Regions from separate parts of the Homo sapiens genome. Here region 2 is linked to region 1. Evidence: fine-mapped expression QTL. A gene starts in region 1. The other region holds a variant in brackets. All regions are shown on one strand. Distances are between the middles of the regions.

What was found. PIP is the estimated chance that this variant, and not a neighbour inherited with it, causes the effect.
Region 2: its variant is fine-mapped to the expression of RNF8 in sun-exposed skin (GTEx, PIP above 0.99).

Annotation. Positions count from the first base shown.
Region 1 is chr6:37,350,604-37,360,023 of GRCh38, forward strand. RNF8 (ring finger protein 8) reads left to right here and starts at 3,380. Exons shown (of 8, transcript NM_003958.4): 1 at 3,380-3,672. The coding sequence starts at 3,562. RefSeq lists a silencer at 3,233-3,332 and an enhancer at 3,633-3,682.
Region 2 is chr6:37,386,863-37,395,178 of GRCh38, forward strand. RNF8 (ring finger protein 8) reads left to right here. Exons shown (of 8, transcript NM_003958.4): 8 at 3,880-7,872. The coding sequence ends at 3,896. Among named protein-coding and RNA genes, the nearest start is that of RNF8, 37 kb to the left of the region's middle. The variant A/G (reference allele first, on the strand shown) is at 4,584.

The DNA of each region.
Region 1 (9,420 bases):
GGCCTGGCACAGTGGTTCACGCCTGTAATCCCAGCACTTTGGGAGGCCAAGGTGGGCAGATCATCTGAGGTCAGGAGTTCAAGACCAGCCTGGCCAACATGGTGAAACCCCGTCTCTACTAAAAATACAAAATAAGCCGGGCGTGGTGGCTCATGCCTGTAATCCCAGCTACTCGGGAGGTTGAGGCAGGAGAATCGCTTGAACCCAGGAGGCGGAGGTTGCAGTGTGTCGAGATTGAGCCATTGCACTCCAGCCTGGGCAACAAGAGTGAAACTCTGTCTCAAAAAAAAAAGTAAGTTTACAGTGGAGAAACCTGACAAACACTACCTAGATTTCCAAAGCCTAATTTCCTAACCATGGTTGCAATCCCAACCTGGAACGTTTTATCTGTGTGGTACTGTCATATCAAGAAATAAGAAATGCCAGGTGATCGAGATGAACACCAACAATGATAGTTCATGTTGATAACACGTACCCTGGATATGATGCCATGAGAATGACACTTTACCTATGTGGTCTTCCATCCCCAAATCCATAACCCCAGTCTAATCATGAGAAAAACATCAGACAAATCCCAGTTGAGGGACATTCTACAAAATATCTGTCTGGTACTCCTCAAATTGTCGAGGTCATCAAAAACAAGGAAAGTCTGAGAATCTATCACAGCCAAGAGGAGCCTAAGGAGACACACAGACTAAATGTCAGGGTGGCTTCTAGGTGTGCTTGCTGTTCCTGGGGTAGAATGCTAAGGTGGGGTGGGGGCACCAACAGATACCTATGCACAGCTTAGGGAAGCATCTCCATGAGTGCAGCTATGACTTTCACCAAAGTTCCTGGCCCTCTGTGATGTCAGGGCCTGCATTTCTTGATCTGACTGCACAACACAGATAAAATGTTCCAGGTTGGGATTGCACCCATGGTTAGGAAACTAGGCTTTTGAAACAGACTTGAATTGACATCCTACTCTGCCATTTCATTTGTTACTTTGGGAAGATTACCAAAACCTCTCTGTGCCTCTTTTCTCATCATCTCTAACATAGGGATTATAATTGTAACCACTAATAACTGGCTAATTTTTCTTTTTTCTTTCTGTTTGCAAAGGACAAATAAAGTATGTAGGGTGCTTCGCCTAGTACCTGGCACTTAGCACTCAGTAAATGTTAGCTATTTACTATTGTACACTGTGTAATTCATTTAGTGTATGTATTTTCTTTTCTTGTTGTTTTGTTTGTGTATTTGTTTTTGAGACAGAGTGTTGCTCAGTCACCCAGGCTAGAGTACAGTGGTGTGATCTCAGCTCACTGCAACTTCTGCCTCCCAGGCTCAAGGGATCCTCCCACCTCAGCCTCCCTGGTAGCTGGGATTACAGGTGCTCACCACCATGCCCAGATCATTTTTGTATTTTTACTAGAGACAGGGTTTCACCATGTTGGCCAGGCTGGTCTGGAACCCCTGACCTCAGGTGATCCACCTGCCTCGGCCTCCCAAAGTGCTGGGATTACAGGCGTGAGCCGCCACACTTGGCTGTGTGTGTGTTTTTTGTTTTTGTTTTTGTTTTTTTTGTTGTTGTTGTTTTGATGGAGTTTCACTCTTGTTGTCCAGGCTGGAGTGCAATGGCGAGATCTCGGCTCACCGCCACCTCTGCCTCCTGGGTTCAAGCGAGTCTCCTGGCTCAGCCTCCTGAGTGGCTGGGATTACAGGCACACGCCACCACGCTGGGCTAACTTTGTATTTTTAGTAGAGACGGTGTTTCTCCATGTTGGTCAGGCTGGTCTTGAACTCCCAACCTTAGGTGATCCGCCTGCCTCGGCCTCTCAAAAGTGCTGAGATTACAGGCATGAGCCACCATGCCCAGCCCGGCTGGTTTTTTGACAGAATTTTATTTAGGAAAATTGTTTTCCTTCTTTCCCCTTGTGCAAAAAAAAAAAAAAAAGAGAGGAAGAAGGGAGGAAGGAAGGAAGGAAGGAGAGAAAGAAAGAGAGAGAAAGAAGAAAAGAGAAAGAAAAAAGAAAAGAAAGAAAGAGAAGGAAGGAAGGAAAGAAAGAAGAAAGAAATTGTTAACTGGGTGTTGGAAAACTGAAAAGACAAAAGGGGCTCAACCATTGGATGTACTCACTGCAGGCAGCAGCTATCACACTATATGGAAAATCCAAAGGAGAGGCTGAGTTTAAAAACAATTTTTTAATTGGCCGGGCTCGGGGGCTCATGCTTGTAATCTCAGCACTTTGGGAGGCTGAGGCGGTTGGATCACTTGAATCCAGGAGACACGGCGAAACCCGGTATCTACCAAAAAATATAAAAATTAGCCGGGCGTGGTGGCGCGTGCCTGTAATCCCAGCTACTCTGGAGGCTGAGGCAGGAGAATCTCTTGAACCCGGGAGGCGGAGGTTGCAGTGAGCTGAGATCGCACCACTCCAGGCTGCACTCCAGCCTGGGTGACAGGGCGAGACCCTGTCTGTAATCAGTAATAATAATAATAAAATTAACAGCTTTATTGAGTATAATTTACATGCCATAAAATTCACCCACTGGAAGTTTACACTTTCTTCACTTTACAGGGTCTCACTCTGTCGCCCAGGCTGGGATGCAGTGGCGCCATGTCGGCTCACTGCAACCTCTGCCTCCCGGGGTCAGGTGATCCTCCCACCTCAGCCTCCCAAGTAGCCGGACTACAGGTGTGCACCACCACACCTAGCTAATTTTTCTTTTTTTTCTTTTTTCCTTTCTCTCCCTCCCTTCCTCCTTTTTTTTTTTTTTTTTTTGTAGATACGGTGTCTCCCCATGTGGCCAGGTTGGTCACAACTCCTGAACTCAAGTGATCCGCGCGTCTCGACCTCCCAAAGTGCTGGGATTACAGGCGTGAGCCACTGCGTCCGGCCACACTTCCATGACTTTTTAATAAACTTATACAGTTGTACAATTGTCACCACAATCCACTTTTAGAACATTTCTATTACCGCTTTCCTCCAATTTTTTCAAGCCCATCTGCATTCAATACCCGCTCCCACACCTCGCCCCAGGTAACTGTGCTCTTTGTCTTTGTAGATTTGCCTAGTGTAATTTATTTTTTACTTCGGTAATATAAGTAGGTCGTGCAAAATAGAGACTATTTAGCAACAGACTAGGCAGACTTAAATCCGATGGAAAGTTTAAAGTTGTTTAAAAGTGGGCTATAGTTTCACATGACTTTTTTAAAAAGAGGAAAGGTGAGAAGAGGTTCCAGTCTGGGGCGGCTAGGACTGGGGTGATGGTTCTGGAGGCGGCGAGGGAAGGTGTGAGGCGAGGAGACCTCTCGAATCGCGCCCGCCCCGCCCAGGGCCGGATTGGCTCCCAACCCACCCTCTTTGCTCCAGGGCGGCCGCCGTCCTCTTGCGCAGGCGTAGTGCTCCTGCTTCCTGGCCGAGGGCGGGCGAGCGGAGCCTGCTTTCGCAGCGATCGCGAGCGTGTGGCGATTGCTTCTGTCTGTTATTTAGATATGGAAGCTGAGGGGATGCACAGAGGCAGCCAGAACCTAGGTCAGGGTCTCGCTCGGTGCTGACCGCCCCCGGGGTCGAGTAGGCGATGGGGGAGCCCGGCTTCTTCGTCACAGGAGACCGCGCCGGTGGCCGGAGCTGGTGCCTGCGGCGGGTGGGGATGAGCGCCGGGTGGCTGCTGCTGGAAGATGGGTGCGAGGTACGGGGGAAGGGGTCCTGTGGAGCGGAGGGCAGGGGCTGGAGGGAGCGGGGCTCCGGGGAGGGAGGAAGGTGTCTTGCTGGGCTGAATGAATGGCAGAGAGGAGGCGGGCATCAGGAAGAGGAGCGAAGTGTCTGTGGGGGGGGTGGATTCCTGGGGAGAGAAGGGAGAAAGCGGTTCTGGCGCGAGCGGCTGAAGGGTCTGCGGTGGGAGGTGTTTGGGGGAGAAATAGGGGCCGAGTGGGAGAAAGGAAGAAAAGAGAGTTCGGCTCTGGGGAGCCCGGGGGGGCCACAAGGGTTGGGGCGAGGACGGAGGCCCTGACCCGCGGCCTGTGGGGCGAGAAGCGGGCCCCGTCCAGAGAGGCCTGGGTCAGCGGGTAGCTGGGCCGGGGACTGGGAGGAGAGGGACGCGCAGGGAACGTGAGGAGATGCGGGGGTGTCGAGGAGGGGAGGGCGGGGGCTGGCCAGATCCCGTTTAGGGCGCACAGAGCCCCGCGGTGCCAGGTCGGGGAACGGTGGCGGGGGCCGCGAGCTGCCGGGAAGCCGAGGCAGGGCCCGGCGCCTGAACTTTCTCGAGTTTGTTTTGAAAACGATTGCAAATTTTGGGTTTTGTCCCTTAAAGCAATCAAACTTTCACGTAGAAATGTCTTCCTCCTTCCCAACTCTGAGGAACATGGGCGGCTTGGGCTGGGCCACATTTCTCCTGTGAGGCTCGGTACGGCCGAGTGGCACTCCCTGAGGTGGGTCGGGCAGGTATTCAGAGTTCTCTCCAGAGGCTGCCTGTCGTCTTTATTAATGCAGTTGCAAATGAAAAATATTTTAAGGGGAAAGATGAGGTACCGTTCCTGGCACGGTTCAAGATGCACCAGCGTGGTGCATCTTGAAAAGACGAGGGAAGGGAGGAGGGAGTTAGATTGCAATCAGGTTGAGAAGGAGAACTGGGTCAGGGACAAGCTTGTGATGACTGGGAACCATTTGGGTTTTGGAAATAATCTGTATGAAAAGTTCTCTTTGCAGTAAAAGTGGATGGTTGGTCATGATGTAAATTCAAGAAGTATTTTGAGTCTCATGTGTGTTCAGGTAGATTTTTCCTATAAGCCGTACTGCCTCAATTCAGTCTGCCAGGTATTTACTGAGTATTTAACATTGTTTGGTGTACAATGAGGACAAATAAAATTTCTGCGCTCGAAGAGTTTAAGGCTTGAGTGGGGAGAGAGGATTTATACAATGAAGCAGTCATCGTATAAAGAACATCCATATGGGCTGTATGATCAAGTGCTAAGATTTGGATTATTTAGTTCCTTCCCAGAGCAGTAGTTCTTCAAGTCAGAGGAGGAATTCATGTCTAGGCACAAATTTAATTGCTAGATTAGGGAGTGTTATAAAGGGTTACTTGTATGCTGTGGTTTGAGGAACACCAAGAAAACATCTCTGCCTCCAAATACCTCTTCTATCCAGGTATTAGTGCCTAAAAGTCCACATTAAGCATTCATTCTTTTAGCTTGAGCACTGATCTTTCCCTGCCTGGCCCTTTCCAACAGCATATGTTTGTGGGAAGTTTAACAAATTAAAACACGAACACCTGAATAATAACCTGAATAATACACACAAAAATAAATTATTTTTGTGCATAACTATTAGTTAATTTCACATACATTACTTAATCTGATCCCTGCATACACACAACCTCATAAGATAACTCAGTGGGCAAGTGTTATTCCTTTAGATTCAATTGTTGTGGATTAATTTATGACTTCTGAATAGCTTGTCAGTACTGCAGTCTTGGGCAGGTGGGATGGGGAGGACGAATTAAAGCACCTGAAGAAAGGGCAAGAAGACTATAAAGCAGTCTTAGACATATTCTAAACCATTTGATAGTTCTTTATGGGGCCAGTTGCATGGGGAGGGACCCATATAAACTCAGTGGTAAGACTGTGGCTGGCTTCAGGGACCTGTGTGTAGGAGAAGCCTGCCAGGCTTGGCTGCCTGCAAGGTCAGGTCGTAGCATAGCCTGAAAAGAAGTCTGAATCAAAGGCAAGAGAAGAAGTTGTACTTATTGTTATGGTCCCCAAATCATAGCACAAGCTGTTTTGCACAAGATTTTAAAAGATACGCTAATAACATAACAGCAAAGGTAGGTCAGTTCCCTGCCTTTCCAGTTCTTAGTCTCAGATGTTGTGGATAAAATAATAAAACAGGGTTCCTTTCATTTCATTGATGGGAACACTGTAGTAAATTGTCTAATTAAGTGGCTTTAAGCTTGTTAAAGCAATGCATAGAGTTTGGTGGAAAAACAAGTAGAGATTTATTGCAAATTAGCTAGTTCTCAGGTACTATAAAGTATCTAGGCCTTTGGGGAAAACAACAGAACCTTCTCTCCCCTTTTCTTCTCTTGTATTTAGTTTTCATTAAGTTTTCTGCCCCAAGGGAAAAAAGGGAAAGGATGGTTATATTTACTGGTTTGGGGGCTTTTTTGTGGGGTGTTTTGTTTTGAGACAGAGTACTCCTTCTGTCACCCAGGCTGGAGTGCAGTGGTGTGATCACACCTTCACCTCCCTGGTTCAAGTGGTTCTTCTGTCTCAGCCTCCGAAGTAGCTGGGATTACAGATATGCACCACTATGCCCAGTTACTTTTTGTGTTTTCAATAGAGGTGGGGTTTCGCCATGTTGGCCAGGCTGGTCTCGAACTCCTGGCCTCATGTGATCCGCCCGCCTGGGCTTCCCAAAGTGCTGGAATTACAGGTGTGAGCCACCACACCTGGCCAGATTTACTTGTTATTTGAGAAACAGTAGGAATTGTGCCCAGGAGGAAAGAGATAGTCTTAGTGAAGGTGGGCAAAGACAGGATGATCTTTTAGATCAATAATGTGTGTAAGCTCAAAGGCTTGCAAAACTATTGTAAATGAAAACAACCCCTCACATATGGGTCGTCAGTCAGTTCCCACGGGAAATTCAGTGTTATGTTGAGTGGTCCTGAGATTTCCAGGTAACCTCACTGCACTCTTTAACTACAGTATAGGTGAAATATCAGTAGTACCAAGGTAAATTCTAAGACCAGGCAGTGCAGGGAAGGATGTAAAAGAATGATTCCTTTTTCTGGGTTCAGAGTCTGTTGGAGGCAATGTCAGGAAAAGGCACTCTTCTACTGTTTTGGTACTGTTTTCCCCTGGCTACTCACAATGGCAGTCTGGCTGTCTCCCCTCAAGTATTAGCATGTAATATGAGATGCTTCCTCTCTTAGAGATAAAGCTACCTAAATAGAAATTTTACTGAATATGGACGACAGATAAATCCCTAGCCATTCCATTTTTAACAGATATGTGTATTCAGAGGAACTTCTATAATTAATATAATTCTGGCAGAGTGTGAAAGAACTGAAAAACTTTGTGCTCAGTGTTGGTGGAGTGATCACCACAACATTTTAAAGAGAAACAAGTGAGACTGTATGAGTTCCAACTGCTGCTCCATATTTTCCAATGGTAATACAGTCTCTAACTTCTGACCTAAAAACACCCACCCTAAAATCTTGAGGACTCATATGCAAGACCTCTTTATTCTTTCATTCATTCTCAAATACTTAACTGAACACTATGCCAGGTATAGAAACACAGTGGTAAACAAGACAGATAAAGTCCCTGCTTATCTAATTTATATTCTATTACGGGGACAGAGGGGAAAAGTAAAATAAACAAGATAATTTTGGTCTGTGATAAGTACTTCCTAATAACTGAAGAAATATGATGGGAAGCAGACAACCAACTTTAGACAGAGGTAATCAGAGTAGGCTTATGAGTAGCTGGAACATGAAAGATAAGGAGCCTGTGCAAGATCTGAGAGAAGAGTGTTCTTAGCAGAGGGGCTAAGTGAAAAGACCCTCAGGTAGGCTGGCACTTCGGGGAGATGGGCTTAAGGAACAACAACAACAAAAAAGTTTGAGGGGCTGGAGCAGCTAGTGTTGGCACTATGGTATGAGTTAAGACTAAAGAGTAGAAGGGCTCAGGACATTCAGGGTCTTATAGGCCATGGAAGGAAGTTTGAATGATTGGACAGTTTTAAGGAAAGAAGGAAAATGACCTGATTTAAAATTTTTACATTTCTATTCCAGTTACTATTATAAAGCTTATGGGGGCTAGAGTGAGAACAGAAACAGTAGGAGGCCAGGTGGTTTGGACTAAGGCTGTGGCTGCAGAGATAGGAATGAACAGACTTAGGACATATTTGAATTATAGCCCATATAATTTACCAGTGATTTCAATGTGGGGATGAGGGACAGAGATGAATCAAAGATGGCTTCTGGGTTATGGGTTGAGTAGTTGGTTGGATAGTATTGTGAATACTGAGATAAGAGTTTGTGGGGAGGAATAGATTAGGTCAGTGAGTCGTGGTGGTCTTTGAGGGACTGAGGAGGACAGGCATTCTGAAAGATTTTAAAGAGAAGAGAAGAGGGCAGTTTTAGCTAACTTTGGTTTAAAGTTCCCAGTTAAGGTTGTGATATGGGACATTAAAGAGGTCGTTTGTGCACTAAGAAGAATATGCAGGGAGCCGGGCGCGGTGGCTCACACCTGTAATCCCAGCACTGTGGGAGGCTGAGGCAGGCAGATCACTTGAGATCAGGAGTTCGAGACCAGCCTGACCAACATGGTGAAACCCCGTCTCTACTAAAAATACAAAAATTAGTTGGGTGTGGTGGTGCGTGCCTGTAATCCCAGCTACGTGGAAGCTGAGGCAGGAGAATTGCTTGAACCCGGGAGGCAGAGGTTGCAGTGAGCTAAGATCGTGCCACTGCACTCCAGCCTGGGTGATAAAGCAAGACTCTCTCAAAAAAACAAAAAAAAATTAACAAACAAAAAAGAATAAGGGAATTCTGTGATCTGGAACTCAGAAGAATTTCATTTCCTTCCTTCACAGGGTTGTTATGAACTAGACTGGTCCAACAGGAAAGTATGATAGATGTGAACTGGGGCTTCTTTTCAACCTTTTCCGGAAGCTCTCAAGCTGTTCTTGTGGATAAGACAGAGAATATGTACTCCAATGCAAAGACTTTTGGTTGAATTATAACTGGCTGAAGGTATATCCAGATGGTGTGGGTTAATGTTTACTAGGTTTTCCTGAAAACTTTGCCTTTGGCTGCATCCCATTCTGTGTCTTGAACGAAGGTATAGAAGGCATCATCTCATAAATTTGGTGGAAGAGATATTAAGTATGTCTGATCTGATGGCAGATTAAAAATTCAGAAAGGTCTTGACAAATTGGTTTGATAGGCTGAACTAGCAAGATGAAATTTAATAGGAATCAATCTAAGGTCCTGCGCTTGAATCCAAGGTTTTCCATCCAGTCAAGTATAGAGCAGAAGAGACAGGACTTAGGATAGCATTTCTTGGAGGAGGGGGAGACCAAGAAATTTAATCATTCCTAAGTTCGAGGATACACTGGCAGTGTACTAGATCTGCTATGAAAGCTAATGCAATTTATATGCTCCAGTGATAATATCTAGAACTGGGAAAGTAACACTTGCGTTTGACTGTGTAATAGAAATTAAGTTTATTTTTCTTAATATGCCATCCAGGAATAAAGATAAACCAGCAGTCCCTTCACAGACTCATTAGAATGGCAAAGGCTCAAGCCCATCCCCTGGGAGTTAAGTTGAAGTAACTGGGAATACAGAACCAGGAAAAGAGAAAACTCAGTGTTCACTTTATATCTGTGCCATTGAAAGGGGATTGGAGATTTCCCGATGGTGCCCAGGGCA
Region 2 (8,316 bases), 36 kb after region 1:
TTTCTCCTGCCCTTTTTTGATTTTTAGTGATAACACAGTTATTTTGGCCCTCTAAAAAATGGATCCTCTTTCCCTCCTAACGTGTAATTTTATCATTTTTCATACCTACTTCCAGGAATGTCTATTGTAGGAGACTACCTGTGCAAATATAGAGTAGCGTCATTAACCAAAGCAGCTTTTCTTTGAGTTTCTTGGTTAACCCTAGATGAACACTGAGTATTTTTAGAGCAAGCTCAAATAAGTTGATATTCTATGAACTAATCATAGAGAATGGCTGATTATACCTTATCAGCTGGATATATATTCTGTCCAACTGCCTACTGCTATGGTTCTTAAGAAATCTGATATAACTAGACATGCTCCTTTTCCTGGCTAGGGCTTCTACTTCAGTTACTTTCTGTATCCTGGAGAGTTTGGACTGCTTTTACACTTGTCTCATTAAACTTGAGCCAGAACCAACCCCAAAGAAATATCTCTTACTTGCTTCCTTTCTTCTGGGTCTTTCCTTTTTTTCTGTCACCCAGGCTGAGTGCAGTGGCATGATCTCAGCTCACTGCAAACCTCCGCCTCCTGGGCTCAAGCATCCTCCCATCTCAGCCTCCCTAGTAGCTGGGGCTACAGGCGTGCGCCACCATGCCTGGCTAATTTTTTGTATTTTCTGTAGAGATGGGGTTTCATTATGTTGCCTGGGCTGGTCTTGAACTCCTGGGCTCATAGGATCAGCCCACCTCAGCTTCCCACAGCGCTGGGGTTATAGGCATGCGCCACCACGCCCAGTCCTGGGTCTTTCCTTTTTCTTAGCACCTACTAAATGCTAAGTGCTTGGGGATAAAAGCAAAGAGGGCATGTGCAGTCTCTCCCCTCATGGAACTTTTGCTCTAAGTGCAGGCCCTAGGTTCCTTATAGTAAAGTCCTACAATATGAGAAATAAAGGGTGCTAAGTCAAGGAAAGGCTTCCCTGAGTCAGTGAAGGACATGGAGTGTATTTTAGGTGAAAGGACAAGAAGCAAAAGCAAGGGGTTTTTAGGGGCTGAGAGAAGTACAGAGTGCTAGAGAGAATATTGAGCATTCAGCCTGGAAAAGTTGGCAGGACTGGGTCATGCAGGGTGTTACAGACATGTTGCAGAGTTAGTCTAGGGGCAGGGGGAAACAGAAGATATGAAGTGGAGATCTGACTGTTGATGTTTGTGTTTTTCTGGATAGGTTAGTCTGGCTGTAGTGAAGAGACGACATGGTGCTGGGAACAAGAATAAAGGCAGTAATCATGGCCAGTGATGATGGTGGCTAGGTTAGAGAAGTAGCAGCAGGGATGGCCAGAGTGGATAGATTCAAGAGGTAGTTAAGGAGGTAGAATCCACAGGTCTGTGGGACTGATGTGCTGTGGGGACTGCAAGGGAGCTCAGATCATGTCTAGGTTTCTTTCTATTGGGGCACCTGAGTTGATGATGATGCATTTACTAAAATAGGAGTAGTTGGAGCAGACAAATTTAGTTTTCAACTGGAAAGTTTAAGGCACCTGAGGACATCAATGGAGCTGTTCAGTGGTTATTTGAATGTGTGGATCTGGAGCCTGAAGGACAGGCCAAGTTGAGATTCTAGGTTTGGGGATCATGAGCCATGGAAGTGGATGAACCACTGTTACCGTCTCTGTGGTATTAAGAGCCAAAGGGCAAGTTCTTAGCCATGAGAAACACCAACATTAGGGGATGAGTAGTAGAAGAGGGGCCTGCAGGGCAGACTGATGAATGGCCAAAGAGAGAGATGGAAAAAGAGGGATGTGGGGCAGGGATGTGGGGCAGGCAGAGCTGGCACATGCCTGTCCTCACAGCTACTTAGGAGGCTGAGGTGAGAGGATCACTTGAAGCCAGGAGTTCAAGACCAGCCTGGGCAACATAGTGAGACCCCCATCTCAAAAAAAAAAAAAATTAGGCATGATGGCATATGCCTGTGATCCCACCTACTCAGGAGGCTGAGGCTGGAGCATCCCTTGAACCCAGGAGTTTAAGTCTCCAGTAAGCTGTGACTGTGCCACTGTACTCCAGCCTGGGCAAAAGAGCCAGACCCTATCTCTTTAAAAAAAAAAAAAGACATTACATGGTGTCCTTTGAGCCTTCCTGGCCACACTCTTGTCTAGGGTAGATCCCCCTCATTACATTGCCCTATATTTCTTTGAAAGCATTTACCAGATTGAAATAATATTTGTTAGTGTACTCTTGCCTCTAGATTTCCGAACTCCTTGAGGGCAGGAATTTTATCTTTCTCCTTGTAGTATTTTCAGGGCATTGAAGAGTGTTTGGCACATGGTAGCTCTTCAGTAAATATGTGTTTATGAAGAGTTATAAAGTGAGAAGTCAGCGTTTGAAATGCTGCTGAGACATTAAACAAGATAAGGATGAAAAATTGCCCATTGAGTATGCAGGCATGTGGGATATCGGTGACTTTATCTAGTATAAGTTGTGGGGGATGGTGGAGTCAGAAGTCAGTTTACAGTGATTGGGGAGTGAGTATGAGGTGAGGAAGTACAGAAAGAATAGATAACTTCTTCACAAAATTTGGCTGTGACTAAGATGGGGAGGACCACCACCAAAAGAAGGCTGTATTTGGAGGAGGAAGTAGGGTGAAATGGGGTTTTTGTTGTTTTTTAAAGACGAGATTTGAGCATGTTCCATTGCAGATTGAAAGGAGCCTGTACAGAAGGGCATGCTGGAAAGCCAAGATAGCAGGTAGGGCATGACTCGTTGGAAAGCAGGGGAAGACAGGGAGTACAGAGCTCAGAAAGCAATTAGTCTTTAAGAGGAGAAGTGTGCATTCTTTGTTTTATAGAAAGAAGAGTATCGTGGGGGGGTGGGGCAAGGAAGTTTGCTTGAGGGGTGTCCAGAGAATTTCTTTCTTGTGGCTTCTGTATTCTTCTGTGAGCTAATAGTTGAGGCTGTTAGCTAAGAGGGAGGGAACCCTACTTGGTTCTCTCTCTCCAAGGCTGAGGGCATGCCCAGCCCCAAGGCCCACCACCTCAAAGGCTACCCAGAAGTGGGAGACGAATAACTTCTGTAGTCCTTTCAATCCCCCTAACAAAGCATTCCAGAATTCAGTCTCAGAGAAAGGGGACAATTTGGTTGGTGACTTTATTGTGCCTTTGGCATAGGCCAGGATTCCCACAAGGAAGCGGACTATTGGAAAAGCCTGGAGGCTAGTAAGTAAACAGCCTTTCTTGTCCCCTCCCTCTCTGAACACAGGAAGAATTCCCGCCTCTCCCTGCCTATTCCTGTATATAATTCATTCCTTTCTTTAACATCTTTAACAGATATATTGAGGGCCAGATTTGTGCTAGGCACTGTTCTAGATGCTGAGAATGTAAAAAGTGAAAATCTAAGTTAGATGTAATTAATGCTATGGAGAAAAATCAAGCAAGAAGGGGAGAAGGGGTGATGGTGAAAGCCTTGGCAATTCTTGATAGGGTAATCAAGGAAGGCACCTCTGAGCAGGAACTATTTGAGGGAAGCTCTGAAGGAGGTGGCCATGCTGCCATGTAGGGAAAGAGGGAATGGTAAGGGGGAGCATGCTGGTATGTGGGAGGGGCAGCAAGGAGGCTAGTGCTGGGGAGTGGAGTGAGCGCTGGGGAGTGGGTAGGAGAGGAAGCTTGAGCAAGACGCAGATTTTGTAGGGCCTTGTAGGCCTTTGAAAGGACTTTGACTTTAACTCACTGTGAGAGGAATGAGGAGTGGGCTTTGAGCAGAGAGTGACATGATCTGACTTCTGTTTTCTCAGTTCGCTATGGCTGCTGTGTGAGGAAGAGACAGGGTGGCGAGGCTGGAAGCAGGGAGTCCACGGAAGGGAAATACAGGCTCCTCATTTATTTATTTCTCTTCTTTTTCTCCAAAGCAAAGAGATTGTTCTGAAGACCGTGCTCTAAGGGCATTTGAAAGACTGCCAGGTAGTGCGAGCCTGAGATGGTCTGGAGGATTCTCTCTAGCCGTGACTCCGCTGCTCTGAAGGTCAACTGAGAAGTCTTGTGGGACAGAGACTTGAGTTAGGAAGCCCTCAGTCACTTGCCTTCCACGGTGGCCAGCCCTGCTGCCATCATTGGCTGAAGCACCACCAGGATTCACGGCACCCAACTGCTTCAGGGTACTTCGTAGACTCTGCCTCACTACATGTCGAAAGAGTTATTTGAGTTCTCTTCTGTTTTTTTTTAATTTGTTGTTGTTGTTACTGTTTTGATACCTCGGAAACACCTCCGTTGACAGTTGTTTTGGATAGGTTGGGTGTACCCCATGGCTGCCTCTGAAGGCAGTGTCTATTTTGAGAGGATGGCTTACCTCTTCTTTGTGAAAATACTATCTCATTTCCTGGAAATAAAATGTAAAACCTGTCAGTTGCTCAGCTGGGCTTTGGTGTATTTACCTTCCTTCCCTTCCTGCTCCCAGACAGTCTCACAAGTAAACACCAGCAGCTCATAGATTACAACCAAGAAAGTGACTGTATCAGATGATAGACTTCAAGTGAATGTCAGCCTAAGAGGCCAAGCTGCAGATCGTGGCAACAGATGAGCTCTGTTAACCTCCTGACTGTCGTGTTTCCTTTTT[A/G]TTACAGAGGTGGGTCACTGTTTACCTTGTTTCAGGGGTGGGAGAAACTCCTTTCCTTCAGCTGGCATTTGAATGTTTCCAAATCTATTTTATCTGACGTCATGAACACACAGGCAATGATTTTATGACAACTTGATGTGCTTTTTTCTTTATTTTTCTTTTACATTAGAAGTTTTCTCTCTTTTCTCCACCTCTCCTTTATTTTTAATTTTAATTTTAATTTTTGAAACAAGATCTGACTCTGTTGCCCAAGCTGGAGTACAGTAGTGCAATCTCAGCTCACTGCAACCTCCACCTCCCAGACTCAAGCCATCCTCCCACCTCAACCTCCCAAGTAGCTGGGACTACAGGCATATGCCATCACACCCAGCTAATTTTTGTTTTTCTGTAGAGACAGGGTTTCACCATGTTGGCCAGGCTGGTCTCAAATTCCTGACCTTAAGTGATCCACCTGCCTAGGCCTCTAAAATGCTGGGATTACAGGCGTGAGCCACCACGCCCAGCCTATACCCCATGTATTTTCATAAAGGGTTGGAAACTATTGATTGCCAACTTTTTAAGGATGGTAGGGATTTTTTCTTTGTTGAATATACTGTGAATTTTGGGATTCTGGAGTCCTTAGTCTTCATTTCCATTCTTCTGCCCATGATTACTGATCAAAATACTGGTAGAGTCATGGAGGAAGTAAGTTAAATGTGGAAAAAATGCTTTAAAAGTACTTACTATAACCACATCATAAGAATTCTGGAAAAATAGAGAACAAAAGGAAAAGATTGTTACCACCTTGATTTAATAACTTCTTGTTTCCCCATACATGTGTTTTGTTTATAGATTGCATGGGTATATGTCAATTTTTATATGTTCTGTGTTTAGTTTACATATTGTAATTCATTTTTAAGAGAGTACAGACATACACTTTTTGAGTAGGCAATATGTTCACATAGTTTGAAATTAAAGGTACAAAATGGCGTAGAATGAAATGCCTCTCACCCTTTCCCCACAGCGACTACTTCCCACTCAGAGGCAACAAGTATTACAGTTGCTTGTATATTCTTCCAGAGATCTCTGTCTATACAAGCAAAAACACATGTGGTCTTTTTCCTTGCTTTGCACAAATGGTAAACTGTACGCTATTCTGAACCTTGCTTTTTTCAGATATATGTTGGCAACAGTTCCATGTCAGTACATAGTTTCCTTTCTTTATTACAGCTGCCTGTTTTTTCATTGTGTATTTGCACCATCATTTACTTTTCTGGCTTACTTTTGATAGAAATCTAGGTTGGTTCAAACCTTTTTACTCTTAAAACAATGCTGCAGTTAACACCCTTGTACATATATCTTTAGAGAGAAGATATTTTAAAAAGAAATACCTTTTTAAAAATTATTTTATTATTTTTTAATAGAGACTATGTTGCCTAGGCTGGTCTTGAAATTCTGGGCTAAAGCAATCCTACCACCTTGGCCTCCCAAAGTGCTGAGATTACAGGCATGAGCCATTGCACCTGGCCAAGAAGAGACATCTTGACTTGAGCCTGAAGACTATGTACAGAGACTGACCTCACAGACTGACCATTCCATCCCACAGCTGCTGGACATAGAGTGATTTGCAGCCCCTCCTTTCAGAGTACCACATCCCTCTCAAGTGTTCCACAACATCTAGGAAAGTGAGCTCTTAAAGACAGACTAAAAAGAGTAATAAATCAATACAACAACATTAAAAGCCAGACTAGCGGAGTTTGAATCTTGGCCCTGCTGTTAGTAACTGTGTGAGCCTTGGGCAAGTTACTCAGCCTCCTTGTGTCTTGGTTTTGGTTTCTTCATCTCTAAGTAATTATATCTGTCATTATTGCCCTGATCACAAACAAAAGCCTGAATGTACTATGTTTAAAAGACAAACCAAAAATTAACCCAAACTTGCATTATTTGTCTGAGCTACAGAATGTTCTTTCCTTGGAGAGATATCTGATATTAAACATCATCTGCATTTTACTTGCCTAGAAAATACACGGTAACTTTTCTGCCTTGCAGCATCAAACTATAGTACAGCTGAGCCCCAGTGCTGTGCAGTCTGACTCTAATTAAAGGCACCTTCTTTACAGCAGGGCTCTGGGGAACTGGAAAAGGGGGTTTGTTTCATTATCTGGTTTTATTAAGCAGATGAATGCAGCCAGCTATATGAAGCACTTTGCAGTGAATGGCAGGTGTCCCATATCTGGTTATGTTAACCTAGAAAGGGCTCACTCTACCTCTAGGCATGTTTCATCCCAACAATCAGACTGTGCCAAAGCAGGGGACTTTGTCCTTTGTGGATTGCATAGCTGGATACCCATCATCTGTTTCTCTGATTGGAAGCTGCTGTTGTACAGAAAGACCTGCATTTCCCCCTTGTCTCCAGTTCTCTCACTACTTTTTCCTCCTCTGTGAGTGACCATCCAGGCAGTCACCATAACTGCTGGAGTGTCTGGGATTGGTAGCTCTCTCCAACTGCCTGCTTGCTCTTTACAGCCTCTCTCTGTGACTGGAATCTCTCCACCTCATCGTATCTAAGGATAACCCAGAAACATGGGGTGTCCTAGGTATGTTTATCTCGACACTGAACCCCCTAGGCTTCTGATGAATCCAGTGATTAGCTAAATTTGACATAGAAAGTAAGAAGGAATGTCTACTTTGTATTGTGGTCCTAATCTAAGATCAGGAGAATCCTGGAATTGTTATCTGTCTCTTGCTCTGAGATACAGACTTGTTCATAGGTGTGGGGCCTGATTGGAACAGGATCTGCCATTGGTCACAATAGGTCAAGGGCTTGTTCTGAACCCTAGTTAGCTTCATTCAGAGAAAGAAACTTCCTACCTGGTCAGCTTTTTCAGCTTCTCCAACAAATGGGAGTTGAGGCAGTAGGAGTGTGGGGTTCTTGGGAAGACGATGGGGCCTTGTATTAAGGAGAAATAATGAACTATCTTCTTGATTCTTCCATTGAGAAAAGCATATGAATCCTAGGAAAGGGCTCAGCCTGTGATAGGCATTCAATAAATACTCCAATGCTGTCATTCCTTTGTCTACAGCATCCCCAAACAATGTACCAGTGATGGGCTACCTGAGCTCATCTAGTCGCCAAGCAGTATCTCCTGCTTGCTGCTGCTTTACTACATTCCAGATGCCCACCTCATCCAATTTCCAGAGCCACTATCTCTGCTGTCCACTTTCCTTCAGGCTCTGTGAATACTTCAACCTGCTGTGATTTGGGGCCGTTTGTACTCTGCATGTATTCAATAAATTCAATTCAGCAATAGTTATCAAATGCCCATTTTCTTACTAGGCACTGCTCTAGGTGTTTGGTATGGCAATGAGCAAAACACAACCATTGTGAGCTGATGTTCTAGAAAGGTGTCAAAAGCGTTTCAAAGGTTTTATGAGATGCTGTGGGAGGGGGTTACGCACTGCTACCTACTGAGGTAGCAATGTTGGGTGTTTCCTCACATTCCTCAACCTCCACGCAGGAGATCCAGCAGGCTACGCTGGCCCATCCCAAGATCCAGAACTGGCGTTTCACATCTCTAGGACCTGGGTAGCCCAAGCCTTTGCAGCCTGCTGCTTTTACCACCACCCACCGGCCCTCAGGATGTAGGGACCAGTTCCTTAGAGATCAAGCTGTCCTGGGCCTCTACCCAGCTCTACCCAGGGGCCTTCAAGGGCATCTCTGTGGCAGGTTTCAGGGCAAGTTTGGCCTTTTAGC